Linked DNA regions of Homo sapiens: region 1 is linked to region 2. Evidence: fine-mapped expression QTL. Tissue or cell type: whole blood. Region 2 holds a variant in brackets; the other region holds the start of a gene. All regions are shown on one strand. Distances are between the middles of the regions. Region 1 holds the start of GCLM (glutamate-cysteine ligase modifier subunit). Region 2 overlaps GCLM (glutamate-cysteine ligase modifier subunit).

What was found. PIP is the estimated chance that this variant, and not a neighbour inherited with it, causes the effect.
Region 1: GCLM starts here. The variant in region 2 is fine-mapped to the expression of GCLM in whole blood (INTERVAL, PIP above 0.99).

Annotation. Positions count from the first base shown.
Region 1 is chr1:93,905,290-93,913,631 of GRCh38, forward strand. GCLM (glutamate-cysteine ligase modifier subunit) reads right to left here and starts at 4,141. Exons shown (of 7, transcript NM_002061.4): 1 at 3,749-4,141. The coding sequence starts at 3,874. LOC124904221 (a long non-coding RNA gene) reads left to right here and starts at 4,303. Exons shown (of 2, transcript XR_007066230.1): 1 at 4,303-4,865. RefSeq lists silencers at 3,555-3,604, 3,655-4,014, 4,225-4,464 and an enhancer at 4,505-4,664.
Region 2 is chr1:93,882,453-93,890,781 of GRCh38, forward strand. It overlaps GCLM (glutamate-cysteine ligase modifier subunit), which reads right to left. Exons shown (of 7, transcript NM_002061.4): 7 at 2,747-6,707. The coding sequence ends at 6,538. Among named protein-coding and RNA genes, the nearest start is that of DNTTIP2, 7.4 kb to the left of the region's middle. The variant C/CT (reference allele first, on the strand shown) is at 3,760.

The DNA.
Region 1 (8,342 bases), 23 kb after region 2:
TTTCTCAAAGACAAACAAATTAAATTATTAGAGAATAAGTGTGGCTGGTAAATCCTACCTCAGATTCACCTGTGCTGTTTATTAAAATTTCAGACTCCTGAGCCTAATCCTAGACCCACTGAATCATTCTCCAAGAGCAGTTTGGACTTTCATTTTAACAAGCATCCTAAGGAGAGTACTTTATCTACGTACTCTAAAGTCTGAGAACCACCAGGATAGACATATCTTGCAGAACTCAACTTGTATGACACTCCAGAAGTCATTTCGTAACATTTAGGTGCACCTCTAACCTATCTTCCATGTTTTCTTAGATAAACAAAAAAAAATTTATACAAATATTATAGTATGTTGTAAATTAATTCAAACATACTTTATTAAAGTGTATTTCAGACTTATTTGATAGTAGTCCAAAGTAAGACATACATTCACATAGTGAGCAAAGACCTATATACATATAATGGAACAAAACAGTCATAAAGCGGTATTTATGCTCACAACATGCCAGGCACTCTAATGGCTTCCAATATATTAATTAGAAAAAATATACTGGTCCATGACTCACTGAACTGATTTATGACCACTAATGGGCCAAACCTGGCAATCTGAAATCACTGCCTTATTAGATAACCAAGGACACAGTGTTTTGCATTCTTCTGTGGGCAATCAATGAAAACACAAATGAGTAACTAGAGGCAAGCCCCTGAATTGCAAAAGCACTTTCCTAATAGAAACAGCAGACACTAAACTTCTGAACTATCTGAACTATGACTGCTTATGATAAAAACTGATACAATCACTTTACTACGTATATCTTAGTACACATGATTACAAGAGATAACTGGTTTATCAATTTAAGGGCACAGAACTACCTATGTTAAGATTTACAATCCATAATAATAATTTACATGCTAGTCACAACAATTCACTTGAATTCAAATTATAAGGTCTAGATCTTTATGTAAAGCATATTTATAATCAAATTTAAGTCAGTGGATGAAAAGGAGTTGATAATCATTCCAGATACAATTATAAGTCATAGTATTTTCTTAAAAATTAGTAAAAATGGAAGGAGCAGAACCAACTAGAGGTTAAAAATTCTATCGGAAGTGCTTTGGCTCAAATCGTGGGATAATTCTAAGAAATTTCCCTCTGGAAGGATGGCTCATTTGCACACTTGAGGCTTTCCTGATGAATTCCTCAATTCAGGAAGGTAAGTCTATTTTTATAGTATTCACCCTCTTCTTGAAACCATTTCTTTAATTAATCTTGGATTCTGCAAAATGTCAGGACAAATAATAAAACAGTCTAATGTTACAATTACGTAGGAAATTCATTGACTTTATCACAAGCCTAATTATTTTTAATCTTGTAAATTACATGTTTGCTATATTGACTAAACATTAACCTTGTACTTGGGTTAATGTTTGTCATTAACATTAATGTTTATGTTTGTTCTCCGCTCTCTTCATTCTTATAATACACACCCAATATCACTGAGTATAAGCATCACCACAACTTAGCCTACCATTAGATCTGGAGTTGTATAAGAATTTTTTAAATACCATGATTCAACCGGTCAAACACCCTTACAACAAAGAACTGGGCAAAACAGTCCTATAATGGTCCACTTACAAACTATTTGATTTCATAAAATTCCAGTGAGACAAAAAATCTGGGCAGAGGTCATAACATTTTTTAAAAAATTAGAACTAGAAGAGACCTTGTAAGAAATTTAACTGAACTCTTGACCCAACACGTACATTTTCTCAAAAATAAGTGATTTGTTCAGTTTACTTAATTTCTTCAGTGAAGCGGAACTGTTCCAAGTAGTACATCCCAATTTGGAGCTCTGGGTGTTACAAAGTTCTTTTACATAGAAACAAAATGTGCCTCCCCTTTTGCTCTTACCAAGCAGTCATAGTTTCCCTACAGTATGATGCCATTCCTTCAAGTTTTCCTGAAATGTTTTCTAGTTTCTTTAGTTTTATCCTACTGTTATGAAGCACCCTAAATAAAACACTAGAAACCAGAATTAGTCCTTTGAACAATGTTTTACAAACTGTGGTGTGTGACTCTGAGCATCAAGAAATCAACATTTTAAAAATTAAAATAAAAGAAAAAATCAGAATATACGGTATAAGGGCTAATATCTTTTTGTGAAACCTGTTTCAGATATACTGATTATACAACTATTAACTGGATTGCAAAGTAAAATGTACTTCTTACTGTGTTTGCAGTCAGAAACTCTTTTGAGTCACTACTTTAGAGTATGCTATTGTGAGATAGGTAAAATTTCACCCAATAATATCAATATACGTGCAAAATTCTGTATTGAACTACCACCAACAGTACTGGAAGAAATTAAGAGTCTATGTACCGAATACAGAAATATTTATCTGTGGGAGAAACAGCCAAAGTAGGTGGTTTAAATAAAACAAAACATACACACTGAGCTGGAACGTGAACACAGAATATGGTACAGACTCAGATTCCTACTAAAGTTACAAGCAAGAGTTCTCATCTCTTGATGGGCACTGACCCCAACAACAGGCCTGGGCACAGGTCCAGCACTTAACTCAGAGGGATGCCGTGTGCTGCTGCATGGTCTGTTACCAACATCTCATAGAAGAGAGCAGAAACCACTTAGGAACACAGCTGATTTAGGAAGGTTTTTCTAAACACACATAGTTTAGGAAGGTTTTTCTCTTAATTAAGATTTATCTTTCTGATGGAACCAGATGACAGGGAGATAGATGCCTGCATGGTGAGCGTTTTCATATATTACCTCTTAATTCTCACAACAACCTGATGAGGAAGGTGTTATTATCCAACTTTAAAGTAATTTTCCAAAGTCATATAGCTCCTAAATCTAAAGATTTTGTTATTTTTTAAATACTAAAATTGTCCCATACCACCAATATGCACAATGTGCAGTGGATGACTATCCGCTCAGAAATGGCCAACAAATAGGTAACAAGTTTGTAATTCCAGATTAATCTCTGTCACCTCCAACTAGTGACTAGTCTTTTTATTTTCCAGTTTTTACAAAACTTTAATTTTTGAATTGATAGATTATATTTGTACATATTTATGGGGCACATGTGATATTCTGTTACATGCATAGAATGTACAATGATATTGTTACATGCATAGAATGTGTACTGATAAAGCATACATAGACGCACAGATAAGTGCATAAAATGTGTAATGACTAAAGTCAGGGTATTTAGGGTATTCCAAAGCCAAAATTGAGTGCTTACTCATTTGCCTCACTGCAATAGAGAGTCTAATGTCAACATTCTAAAAGTTAGGTGTACTATGAATACTACTTCATCTGAATGCACCAAAGGATAATCTCCGAAAATATTCCTTTACCTGGACAGGGTGGGGGAAGGAAGCGAGAGATGTGGAGAGAGACGGAGCGACGTCCTGGCCCTCTGTGACCTCCGTGCCAGGAAGAGGGACCCAGGATGTTTGAGAGTTTTGCTACCAGCCTTAAGCACCGAGAGAGGTGTCACTCAGTGCGCAGCTGCACCGGCTAAGTTTTTTAGACGCGTTGCCCTCGGCAGCGGGTTTGGACCCAAGGTCGCGTCGACACTGGCCTCAGCATCTGACCGCGGGCGGAGCCCAGGTGCGCGCGAGGCCCTGCCACCCTCCCTCGCCCGCGGGCGCTTCTCCCTTGCCGGAACCGCCCGGCCCCGCCCGAGGCCTGCCCCGGGAGCCCCGCGGCGAGTGTCGCCACGCTCACCTCCTCGCTGTGCGTGGACGGGCACTTCTTCCGCAGGCGGCCCCAGTTCAGCAGGTTCCCCGTCTGCAGGTGCAGGGTGCGGGCCCGCGCCAGGAGCGCCTTGGCCGCGCGGCTGTCGGTGCCCATGGCAGCGGCCGCCCAGGGGCCGCGCAGCGAAGGGGCTGCGGGCGGGCGGGCAGGCAGGCGGCCGCCCCACAGGACGCGGTGCCCGAGGCCCGAGAGAGACCCGAGAGGGAGCGCGAGGCTGCCGGCGCCGCGCGGCTGGAGCCTGGTCTGCGCTCGGGCCCGAGGGAGGCCGGACGGCGGCTGGGCGGCGGCGGGAAAGGAAGGCACCGGTGGCTGCGGCTCCGGCTCCGGCTACTGCGGCCGCAGCGGGAGAGCTGATTCCAAACTGAGGGAGCTGTTTCCTGGAAGACAATGACTAAGCAGAAATCGTAGCCGAGAAAGTGCTTCGTAACCGTTACTCATCCCGCGGCGGGGCAGGGGCGGGGCGCGAATGGGCTGCGGGACGCCGGCCCGCAAGTGACTGGCCCTTGGCCTGCGGCGGGCGTGGCGACGGGTGGTGCGCGGCGGGCGCGCGGGTCGAGAGAGCGTGGCGGCGCGGCCCGGAGCGCAGCGCGCGGCAGGGCTCCCCCTGGCGGTCAGAGGACAGCGCGAGGCAGACACCGCCTCCGCCTGGTGAGGTAGACACCGCCTCCGCCTGGTGAGGTCTCCCGGCGTTCAGGTCGCGGCTCCGCCCACGGCCGCCCCAGGGTGGGCTTCCTACACGTCTCTTTAAAGGGCAGCCTGAGCGGCCACCGGGACTCGGAAATGCTACGTAGTTTTCGTTCTCAGAAGCAGCTGTTTATGCGCAAGCGCCCCCTTCTTCTTTTCGCTTTGCTACCTTCAAGGACCTTCTCCCAAACTGCTAATTTTTCTTCATCCGTTAAAGGTCTATTGATTCACATTATTTGCTGGCAGTGTGTGAAGTCAACGAACAAGACTGAGTCTTTGCCCTTGAGACGCGTACACTCTACCCAGAGACAAGTTCTAAGCACAGGAAACAAGTAATTTTATAAGAACATCATAGGGCAGTTATTCTCCAGATGAATTCAGATTAAAGAGGACACTTGAGCCGGTGAGATCACAGAAAGCTTTTATCACCCACCCCTTTAGAGGTGGTCGAGATTATTTACCCCTATTAAATTTCACGTGTGGTGGTGGACTCGGTATAAACATCAAATTGAACATGTATTGAGCTTTCCTCAACAATCTTTCACATTCGTTGAGGTGAATCAGATTATTAAAGGCAAAATGAGATTCTCATTATAAGCGGGGACAATATAGCTATTGAAAAGAGAGATGAACCAGTTGGTAAAATGGTAAGAATTAGGGGAGGGATGGGAAAAAAGATCTTTCTAGGAAGTTAGAAATTGAGCCTGATGTTGAGTAAATATTTGTTGGCTGAATGAATGATGGTAAGAGTTCATTGAACGAGCTTGCGCTGCTTTTTTTTTTTTTTTTTGGATATTGATTTTTTATTATAGTGAAAGAGCTACCCACAAGCACCACCACTACTTAAACACATTTTGATGCACTGTAACATACAATTAACATTTGTTGTAAATAATTCCAACATATACAAAAATAGCAAGAATACTATAATGAAACCCGATATAACTATCTTCTGAACTCAAGATTGAATAAGATTTGTCTATACTTTTTGTTTTATAATACTTTAAGTTCTAGGGTACATGTGCACAATGTGCAGGTTTGTTACATATGTATACAAGTGCCATGTTGGTTTGCTGCACCCATTAATTCGTTATTTACATTAGGTATTTCTCCTAATGCTATCCCTCCGCCAACCCCCCACCCCATGACAGGCCCCAGTGTGTGATGTTTCCCACCCTGTGTCCAAGTGTTCTCATGGTTCAATTCCCACCTATGAGTGAGAACATGCAGCGTTTGGTTTTCTGTCCTTGCGACAATTTGCTCAGAATGATGGTTTCCAGCTTCATCCATTCCCTACAAAGGACATGAACTCATCCTTTTTGATGGCTGCATAGTATTCCATGGTGTGTATGTGCCACATTTTCTTAATCCAGTCTATCATTGATGGACATTTGGGTTGGTTCCAAGTCTTTGCTATTGTGAATAGTGCCAAAATAAACATACCTGTGCATGTGTCTTTATAGTAGCATGATTTATAATCCTTTGGGTATATACCCAGTAATGAGATCGCTAGGTCAAATGGTATTTCTAGTTCTAGGCCCTTGAGGAGTCACCACACTGTCTTCCACAATGTTGAACTAGTTTACACTACCACTGACAGTGTAAAAGTGTTCCTAGTTCTCCACATCCTCTCCAGCACCTGTTGTTTCCTGACTTTTTAATGATTGCCATTCTAACTGGTGTGAGATGGTATCTCATTATGGTTTTGATTTGCATTTCTCTGATGACCAGTGATGATAAGCATTTTTTCATGTGTCTGTTGGCTGCATAAATGTCTTCTTTTGAAAAGTGTCTGTTCATATACTTTGCCCACTTTTTGATGGGGTTGTTTGATTTTTTCTTGTAAATTTAAGTTCTTTGTAGATTCTGGATATTAGCCCTTTGTCAGATGGGTAGATTGCAAAAATTTTCTCCCATTCTGTAGGTTGCCTGTTCACTCTGATGGTAGTTTCTTTTGCTGTGCAGAAGCTCTTTAGTTTAATTAGATCCCATTTGTCTATTTTGGCTTTTGTTGCCATTGCTTTTGGTGTTTTAGTCATGAAGTCCTTGCCCATGCCTATGTCCTGAGTGGTATTTCCTAGGTTTTCTTCTAGGGTTTTTATGGTTTTAGGTATAACATTTAAGTCTTTAATCCATCTTGAATTAATTTTTGTATAAGGTGTAAGGAAGGGATCCAGTTTCAGCTTTCTACATATGGCTAGCCAATTTCCCCAGCACCATTTATTAAATAGGGAATCCTTTCCCCATTTCTTGTTTTTGTCAGGTTTGTCAAAGATCAGATGGTTGTAGATGTGTGGTGTTATTTCTGAGGCCTCTATTCTGTTCCATTGGTCTGTATCTCTCTTTTGTACCATGCTGTTTTGGTTACTGTAGCCTTGTAGTATGGTTTGAAGTCAGGTAGCATGATGCCTCCAGCTTTGTTCTTTTTGCTTAGGATTGTCTTGGCAATGCAGGCTCTTTTTTGGTTCCATATGAACTTTAAAGTAGTTTTTTCCCATTCTGTGAAGAAAGTCATTGGTAGCTTGATGGGGATGGCATTGAATCTATAAATTACCTTGGGCAGTATGGCCATTTTCACACTATTGTTTCTTCCTATCCATGAGCATGGAATGTTCTTCCGTTTGTTTGTGTCCTCTTTTATTTTGTTGAGCAGTGGTTTGTAGTTCTCCTTGAAGAGGTCCGTCTCATCCCTTGTAAGATGGATTCCTAGGTATTTTATTCTTTTCAAAGCAATTGTGAATGGCAGTTCTCTCATGATTTGGCTCTCTGTTTGTCTGTTATTGGTGTAGAGGAATGCTTGTGATTTTTGCACATTGAATTTGTATCCTGAGACTTTGCTGAAGTTGCTTATCAGCTTAAGGAGATTTTGGGCTGAGATGATGGGGTTTTCTAAATATACAATCATGTCATCTGCAAACAGGGACAATTTGACTTCCTCTTTTCCTATCTGAATACCCTTTATTTCTTTCTCTTGCCTGATTGCCCTGGCCAGAACTTCCAACACTATGTGGAATAGGAGTGTTGAGAGAGGGCATCCCTGTCTTGTGCCAGTTTTCAAAGGGAATGCTTCCAGTTTTTGCCCATTCAGTATGATATTGGCTGTGGGTTTGTCATAAATAGCTCTTATTATTTTGAGATACATTCCACGAATACCGAGTTTATTGAGAGTTTTTAGCATGAAGGGCTGTTGAATTTTGTCAAAGGCCTTTTCTGCATCTATTGAGATAATCATGTGGTTTTTGTCTTTCGTTCTGTTTATGTGATGGATTACTTTTATTGATTTGCGTATGTTGAACCAGCCTTGCATCCCAGGGATGAAGCCAACTTGATCGTGGTGGATAAGCTTTTTGATGTGCTACTGGATTCAGTTTGCCAGTATTTTATTGAGGATTTTCACATTGATGTTCATCAGGGATATTGGTATAAAATTCTCTTTTTTGTGTGTGTCTTTGCCAGGCTTTGGTATTAGGATGATGCTGGCTTCATAAAATGAGTTAGGAAGGATTCCCTCTTTTTCTATTGATTGGAATAGTTTCAGAAGGAATGGTACCAGCTCCTCTTTGTACCTCTGGTAGAATTTGGCTGTGAATCTGTCTGGTCCTGGACTTTTTTTGGTTGGTAGGCTATTAATTATTGCCTCAATTTCAGAACCTGTTATTGGTCTATTCAGGTGTTTATAGTATTCTCTGATGGTAGTTTGTATTTTCTGTGGGATCAGTGGTGATATCCCCTTTATCATTTTTTATTGCATCTATTTTATTCTTCTCTCTTTTCTTCTTTATTAGTCTTGCTAGTAGTCTATTTTGTTGATCTTTTCAGAAAACCGGCTCCTGGATTCATTGACTTTTTGAAGAGTTTTTTGTGTCTCTATCTCCTTCAG
Region 2 (8,329 bases):
ACTGAGTGAAGGAGGCCTCTGGCCTACACCCAGTGAAGAATTAAGGAACTCAGTCTGACAACGTGTGAGGCACTGAGTCCTGCCAACAACTACACGAGTGAGCTTGGAAACAGACCCTCAGTCCAGCCTTCAGGTGAGACTGCAGTCTTGACTTATCCATTGCTGCATCTGGATGCCTCAAAGTCATCCAGATACAACAATAGATAACCAGTAGTTATAGATTAACTTCATCTCTCCTAAAATTTCAAGTAAAATAAATAATACAGGCCAGGTACAGAGGCTCATACCTGTAATCCCAGCACTTTGGGAGGTTGAGGAGGCAGGATCACTTGAGCCCAGGAGTTTGAGACCAGCCTGGGCAACATAACAAAACCCCATCTCTACAAAATATATAAAAATTAGCCAGGCATGGTGGCATGCGCCAGTAGTCCCAGCTACTTGGGAGGCTGAGGTGGGAGGATCACTTGAGCCTGGGAGGTTGAGGCTGCAGTGAGCCATGATCATGCCACTGCACTCCAGCCTGGGTGACAGAGCGAGACCACGTCTTAAAAAAAAAAAAAAGAAAAAAGAAATAATACAGTATGTACTCATGTCTAGCTTCTTTCACTCAGCATAGTGTTTCTGTAATTCATCCATGTTATTGTGTATACCAGTAGTTGATTCTTTTTTATTGCTGAGTATTTCATTGTATGACTATATAACAATGGATTTATCCATTCAGCTGTTGATAGACATTTGGGTTGTATCTGGTTTTCAATATTGTATTTGGGGGCTTTTAGAATTCTGTAATGTCAAATGATCATTTAAGATTGAGTGCAAACTAAGCTGGGTGTGGTGGCATGTGCCTGTAGTCTCAGCAACTTGGGAGGCTGGAGCAGGAGGATTGTTTAGTTCAGGAGTTCTAGGCAGTAGTATGCGATGATCACACCTGTGAATAACCACTGCACTCCAATCTGGGCAACATAATGAAAACTGATCTCTATAAAAAACAAAAACAAAAACAAAAAACAAAGGTTGAGTGCAAAATAAAGACATTTCAGACAAATGGGATCTAGAAAATTTACTGTCACTAAAGACCTTTGGTAAAGAATTACTAAGGAGGCTAGGTACTGTGTCTCATGCCTGTAATCCCAGCACTTTGGGAGGCTGTGGTGAGAGGATCACTTGAGTCCAAGAGTTCAAGACCAGCCTGGGCAACATAGCGAGATCCTGTCTCTACAAAAATAAAAGTTAGCCAGGTGTGGTGGTGCATGTCTGTAGTCCCAGCTACTTGAGAGGCTGAGGTGGGAGGATGGCTTAAGCCTGGGAGGTTGAGGCTGCAGTGAGCCATGATCATGCCACAGTACACCAGCCTAAGAAACAGAGTGAGATCCCTGTCTCAAAAAAAAAAAAAACAAAAAAAAAAAACTTGAATAGAATGCAAGAATCAACAGTGAGCAAAGAAAGAGGGAAAATAATCAAAATAAGTAATGTTCATTGTAAAACATGAACCTTAAAATAATGGACCAGCAGACACATCAAAATCTTGCATGACATTTTACACATTTAGTCATTGCTGAGGAAACATGTTAAAGCTTTTGTTGACTTCTCTGGTAGCGGAACTACATATGACCATATCCTGATATATTTAGAGGAAATTAGCAAGCTTTCATCTTTTTATGACTTTTCCAAACTTAACCTACGCTTATCTCAACAGAAGCCATTCCTTTCTATAAGAATAAGCTTTTGAAGATGTTTTCCTTGAACTTCTAAAGTTTACATATTAACTACTCCATCATTCAATAGGGGCATATTTACAAACCAGGCAAACAAGGGTTTCTGCCCAGAATGCCTACCACACCTTGTCATCTGACCCTAGTCTAAAGCTAATTTCTTCAGGGAAGTTTTTCTTATCCTTAACCTGCTACTCAGTCCCACTTCCTTCCACATGCCCCAGTCCTTTTCATTACTTCTATCAACAGATACAGCTTTTTTTTTTTTTTTGAAACGGAGTCTTGCTCTGTCACCAGGCTGGAGTGCAGTGGCATGATCTTGGCTCACTGCAACCTCCAACTCCCTGGTTCAAGCGATTCTCCTGCCTCAGCCTCCTGAGTAGCTGGGACTACAGGCACATGCCACCACGCCCAGCTAATTTTTGTATTTTTAGTAGAGACAGGGTTTCACCATGTTGGCCAGGATGGTCTCAATCTCCCGACCTCGTGGTCTGCCCACCTCGGCCTCCCAAAGTGCTGGGATTACAGGCATGAGCCACTGTGCCCGGCCTTTTTTCTTTTTTTGGGGGACAGAGTCTGGCTCTGTCACCCATGCTGGAGTGCAGTGGTGTGATCTCGGCTCACTGCAACCTCCACCTCCCAGGTTCAAGTGATTCTTATCCCTCAGCCTCCCAAGTAGCTGGGATTACAGGCATGTACCACCATGCCCGAATAATTTTTGTATTTTTAGTAGAGACTGGGTTTCACCATGTTGGCCAGGCTGGTCTCGAACTTCTGGCCTCAAGTGATCTGCCCGCCTCGGCCTCCTAAAGTGCTGGAATTACAGGTGTGAGCCACTGCGCCCAGCCAACAGATGCAGCCTTTTATTGCTCTTATTCACATACAGATTCCTCCCTTTCCCCCCAAATATATCGTATATTCCTTGGGTATAGGAGTTATTTTTCATCTGTGTCCATCTGTAGCACAGTGCCTAACACATAGCAGGCATTCAATAAATCTTTGTGGAATGAATGAATGCATAAATAGCTTTATGATTTGGATGTTTTTAAATTATTAATTTATTTTCAAATCATACTCAGTTTGAGTTCAAATAGTTCAAAAATCAATATAATGCTTCAGGATGCTTCCAGCTATTGAAACAACCCAATTAAAAAATATACAACTCACACTTTATTTTAGTTAAATTCATAATGTAGGTAATATTAAAAATTATTATAAACATTTAATAATGCTTTATAATTTGCTATTATAGTACACCACTACAGACACATAAAAAGTTGACTTATCTAATTAAAACATTTTCCCTTCCTATGTTTCTAATTCTGAAAACTATAAAAATATTAAAGTCATGTTACATATTTTTCAAAAATAAAACTGCCATATCCCATTGCCAACTTTACATGAAAAAGGTATATGTTCTGGTATATTAGGAAGTTAATGATGAAAAATATAGGTTCAGAATTTTAATTTGGTGTATTTGAATATGAAAACACAAATGACACAAATGGTTTAAGTCTTCATTAAAACAAGCTTCACATTTCTCTGAATGCATATTTTGCAGAAGGATGAACTGCTAGCCAACATACAATAAATATATCAATTGTTTACATTCCCAAATTTTGAAAATACTGGGTGAAAAATCTAGAAAGACAGTGTTAAAGGAGCATAATTAAATGAACCTTAGACCTTTTATCATTGAAAATTAAGATCCTAATTTTAGTTACTGCTTGGCTGTGGTATGGGAAAGTCTGAACTATTCATGCAAAATAGAATAATTTTTTATTTTCCATTTTATACATAGCTGCTATCCAAATGATCTTTTTTGAAAAATGAAAAATTATTAGCTATTATTTGTGATTCAATTTCTAGCAATGGCCATCATAGTATGGTCTTTTACATCATGTGAAAATACTTGTTGCTTTTGGTGACTACAGTTTCATGGATGGGAATTCAAGATAGACTCATAACAGAACAAATTCCAAGTTACAGTACATTGTGTTAAAGTAAGGCTCCACTGTATTTTGGACATGTAATAAACAAGCTACAG[C/CT]TTTTTTTTTCATATTTACTGGAAAAAAAACAATTATATAAACTTTCTACCTTGGTCTCACTGGATGCACATCTCCTCAGAAAACATCTCTTATATAAACTATTGATAACTTAGCTTTCAGTTTTAAGTAATTATTTGGTAGTATTACCACTCTCTATTTTATGGCTTTTTAAACATTAAGTCCTTAAATATTTGAAAAGTGTTCACTATATTCTGATAGTTCATGAAAAAAAGATGTGAACATCAGCCTGGAAAACATATATAAAGCCTTAAAAATCAGTGTTTTAAAAGAGTATTCAATAATAGAAAATCAAGAGTAGAGAGGTAAAAGTAAAAACTCATCAAAAAATTCCATACATGATCCCCTTCAGAAAATGAATCTATAGTCTTGCTTCTTTGTCAAGAGTTGAGGGTGCAGGTAGGAGATCACCAAAAAGCTCTGCTGAAGTTTAGATACATTAGCAACTAAGTTTTTTTTTCCCCCACTTTCAAAATAACCCTTCAAACAACCCATTTTTATAAGTCCAGGGTTATAAAAACAATAAATGGGATATTAAAGTTCCCTCTTAAAATATCTTGGCCAGTTCACTGTATAGATTTAAAATAAAATGAACGCTTGTTTAAGGACTTATATGAAAAAAATGTTGGGCATTTCCAAATGTAAAGATGAACTATATATATATTTAATAACATTACATACAATTAATATAAAGGCTAGAAGGCATAAGTAGCTCAATATCTAAACAAGTTTTCCCAGGCAAATCACATGATTTCACATAATTTTTCTTTTTTTTTTTTTTTTGAGACGCAGTCTCGCTCTGTCGCCCAGGCTGGAGTGCAATGGCGTGATCTCGGCTCACTGCAAACTCCGCCTCCCAGGTTCAAGCGATTCTCGTGCCTCGCCTCCAAAGTAGCTGGGATTACAGGAGCCCGCCACCACGCCTGGCTAATTTTTGTATTTTTAGCAGATACAGGGTTTCACCATGTTAGCCAGGCTGGTCTAGAACTCCTGACCTCAGGTGATCATCTGCCTTGGCCTCCCAGAGTGCTGGGATTACAGGCATGAGGTGTGCCCGGGCAGATTTCACATAATTTTAATGATCAAATTACCCAATCAGTAAACCACAAAATCCTACTTAGGAAAAGGGTCTATAATATTTATTTTGAATATGGAACCATAGTTCTTTTTCCCTAGGTTGAGAAAACTTGAGCAAAATTAGTTTTATTTAGGCCTGTGGTTTAAAAATATTGAGATACAAGAGTTTTTTTTTTTTTTTGAGATGGAGTCTCGCTCTGTCGCCCAGGCTGGAGTGCAGTGATGTGATCTCGGCTCACTGTAACCTCCGCCTCCCGGGTTCAAGCGATTCTCCTGCCTCAGCCTCCCAAGTAGCTGAGATTACAGGCGAGTGCCACCACGCCCAGCCAATTTTTGTATTTTAGTAGAGATGGGGTTTTACCATGTTGGTCAGGCTGGTCTCAAACTCCTGACCTCGTGATCTGCCCACCTCGGCCTCCCAAAGTGCTGGGATTACAGGTGTGAGCCACTGCGCCCGGATGAAATACAAGAGATTTTTAAAGAAGTTTTCAAACTATTCAGGTTACAGACACAAATTTATAGAATTAAGGAGATTTATAGTGTACATCAAAGTTCATAGCTTATTTATTTGCAATTTTGTGGTTCGTAAACTAATGAAGAATTATACTAAATGACCTATATAGTCTCTTTTAGCTATAAACTTTCAATTATATTATTCTGCTTTAAAATAATTAAGACCATATCTCAAAGTTGTTTAAGTAGATAATGTCGGCCCTGAATTAAGGATTTTTTTTTCATCCCCTTTCTGGCTTTTAGTCCTTCCTAGTCAGTTATTAATGGGGAATAAATATTACACATTTTACTCAACTGATTCTTAATTCCTAGCTCTATTGCCCCCTCCTCTCTCCAGAGCCCACAGTATCCCAACATATGGTAAATACTCAATACTTATTGAGGATTCTTGAATGAGTAGCAATATATACTATGGATGGATCAATAATTTAAAAGAATCTGGATGGAGGTGACAGTAGTTGCTTTTATAAAACCCCCAAACAATAATTTCAAAGCTTCTAGTCTCCTTTCAGATTTACTTTGGTTTGTCTTTATAAGTAATAAAAAGACAGAATATGGCACAAGAATACAAGGTTAAATTATTACAGCTAAACTATAAGCAAGGACACATAAAAAAAAATTTAAGTTTCCATTCATGTATTGAAGAGTGAATTTTATTTACACTACTAGTAAATCCCAGCTACTCCAGTTACTCTGATATATCTCATCAATGACAGGAAAAATATCTTCTTCCAGTATTTCAGTTTTAACAATTGTAATTAAATTGCTTGGTTATAATAAGAGTTAAGAAGCAATTAATGAATTTTTTTTGGAAATAAAAAATATGTATATACATTACCCTGATACCTAGGCCAAAATATATCTAACAACAAATTTTCTTGATTTATATTAGTCATAAAAATAAAGGAAAAATATATTGCAAGTATTTTCTTTATAGACAATTTCAATTAGAAAACAATAGTTTAAGGAAAGCAATACAGAGGTTCATGAGAATGGATTGATATGGAGGCAAGATAAGTATTTAAAACTTGACAGACAACATACTGTCAAATATGACGAAAGAATATCTGCCTCAATGACACCATTTACAGGCAGTAACTAGATTTTTACACATCTCAATTTTCTCTCATATTGAAGGAAATTACAGGTAAGTTATGCTCCTAAGTCAGTTAAGAACCCCTTCTTTTAGCTTGTAAAATGTAGCCTTTTGATTTGATAATTCCTCTACTTTTCACAATGACCGAATACCGCAGTAGCCACAGCGGCACCCACTCGTGCGCTTGAATGTCAGGAATGCTTTCCTGAAGAGCTTCTTGGAAACTTGCTTCAGAAAGCAGTTCTAAAAGAAACAACAACAAACAAAACTCCAGCGTGTTAAATTGGAAAACAAAAAAGCACTTTAGTATGTAGGTAAGCATTTAACATAACAAAAGAAACACCTCAACATTTAATATATAATATGCTTATTCTTCATGTGTGTGCTATGAATCTGAACCAGAATATTAGAAATTCCCAGGCAGTTATTTAAAAAGTATCTACACCTGTACCCCAGCCTATTTAATTCTTAACTTTTGGTGAGTGGAGCCTAGACATCTGCAGTTTTTTAAAGATCTCCAGGTGATTCTAATGTATAGTCAGGGAAAATACAGGAAAGTCTAAAGAAAAAAAAAGTAACTGATAATCCTATCAATTGGAGATGATATAACATTGTCATGCATTTCCTTACAACTTTTTTGGTGTATATGAGTATATATCTTCATATATATATATATATCTTCATCCATATCTTGAATCTCTATATATCTCTAGATCTTATATCTGTATGTGTGTGTGTATATCCATATCTTACAAAATTAGAAATCACACTGTAGTTAAAGCCTTATTTGCTTATCTTTTTCCACTTATATTGTGAATATTTTCCCATGTAATAGTCTGTGAAAAGATCATTTTTAATAATTTCCCCATTACTATATTACATAGATATCATAATTCATATATTTCCTTATTATTGGTCAAAACATTTATGTTTTTCCTAATATTTTGCTAATAAGAATAATGCCAGGATAAACATTCTTTTTTTAAAAAATATATATATATATATTTTTTTTTGAGATGGCATCTCACTCTGTTGCCCAGGCTGGAGTGCAATGGTGTGATCTTGGCCCACTGCAACCTCCACCTCCCGGGTTCAAGCAATTCTTCTGCCTCAGCCTCCCAAGTAACTGGGATTACAGGCATGCACCACCATGCCTGGCTAATTTTATATTTTAGTAGAGATGGGGTTTCACCATGTTGGTCAGGCTGGTCTCGAACTCCTGACCTCAGGTGATCCACCCACCTTGGCCTCCTAAAGTGCTAGGATTACAGGTGTGAGCCACCGTGCCCGGCCTCGAAAAATATTTTCAAACCAAAAGCGGTTTATTACACACACAAAAAGTTGTGTGATGGTAGGACAGAAGGACTATATATATATTATAACCATATTAATTACAGTACATTAAAATGGTGGTTTGCATTACAAATAAGTCTGTAAGTTTAAATATACTAGTGTTATTATCCAATGTATAGACTTTATATAATACATTTATCAGGAATGCCAAAAAAAGCCATATACACATAAATAATGCCCATTTTACAGGTGACATTTTAAAAATGAAAACACCAATGGCTCTGATGACACTTGGGGCATTGATCCATAAAAACCCTTTCTAAAAATAGAAATATTTGTACCAGCAATGCTTTCTTTAAGCATTTGAATACTTAAATCATTGCAAGACCATTTAAATAAATTTTCATTATCAACTATGTCTTACAAAAAAAAAGTCTACACATAAATTTATCTCCAAATATGGAAGAAACAAACCGTCACAATGATGCAGATGATGAACATTTTAAAATGCATGCCTGGCTGTGGAATGAAGGGCCAAAGTACAAGTACATTCTTAAAGCTAGATACACGCT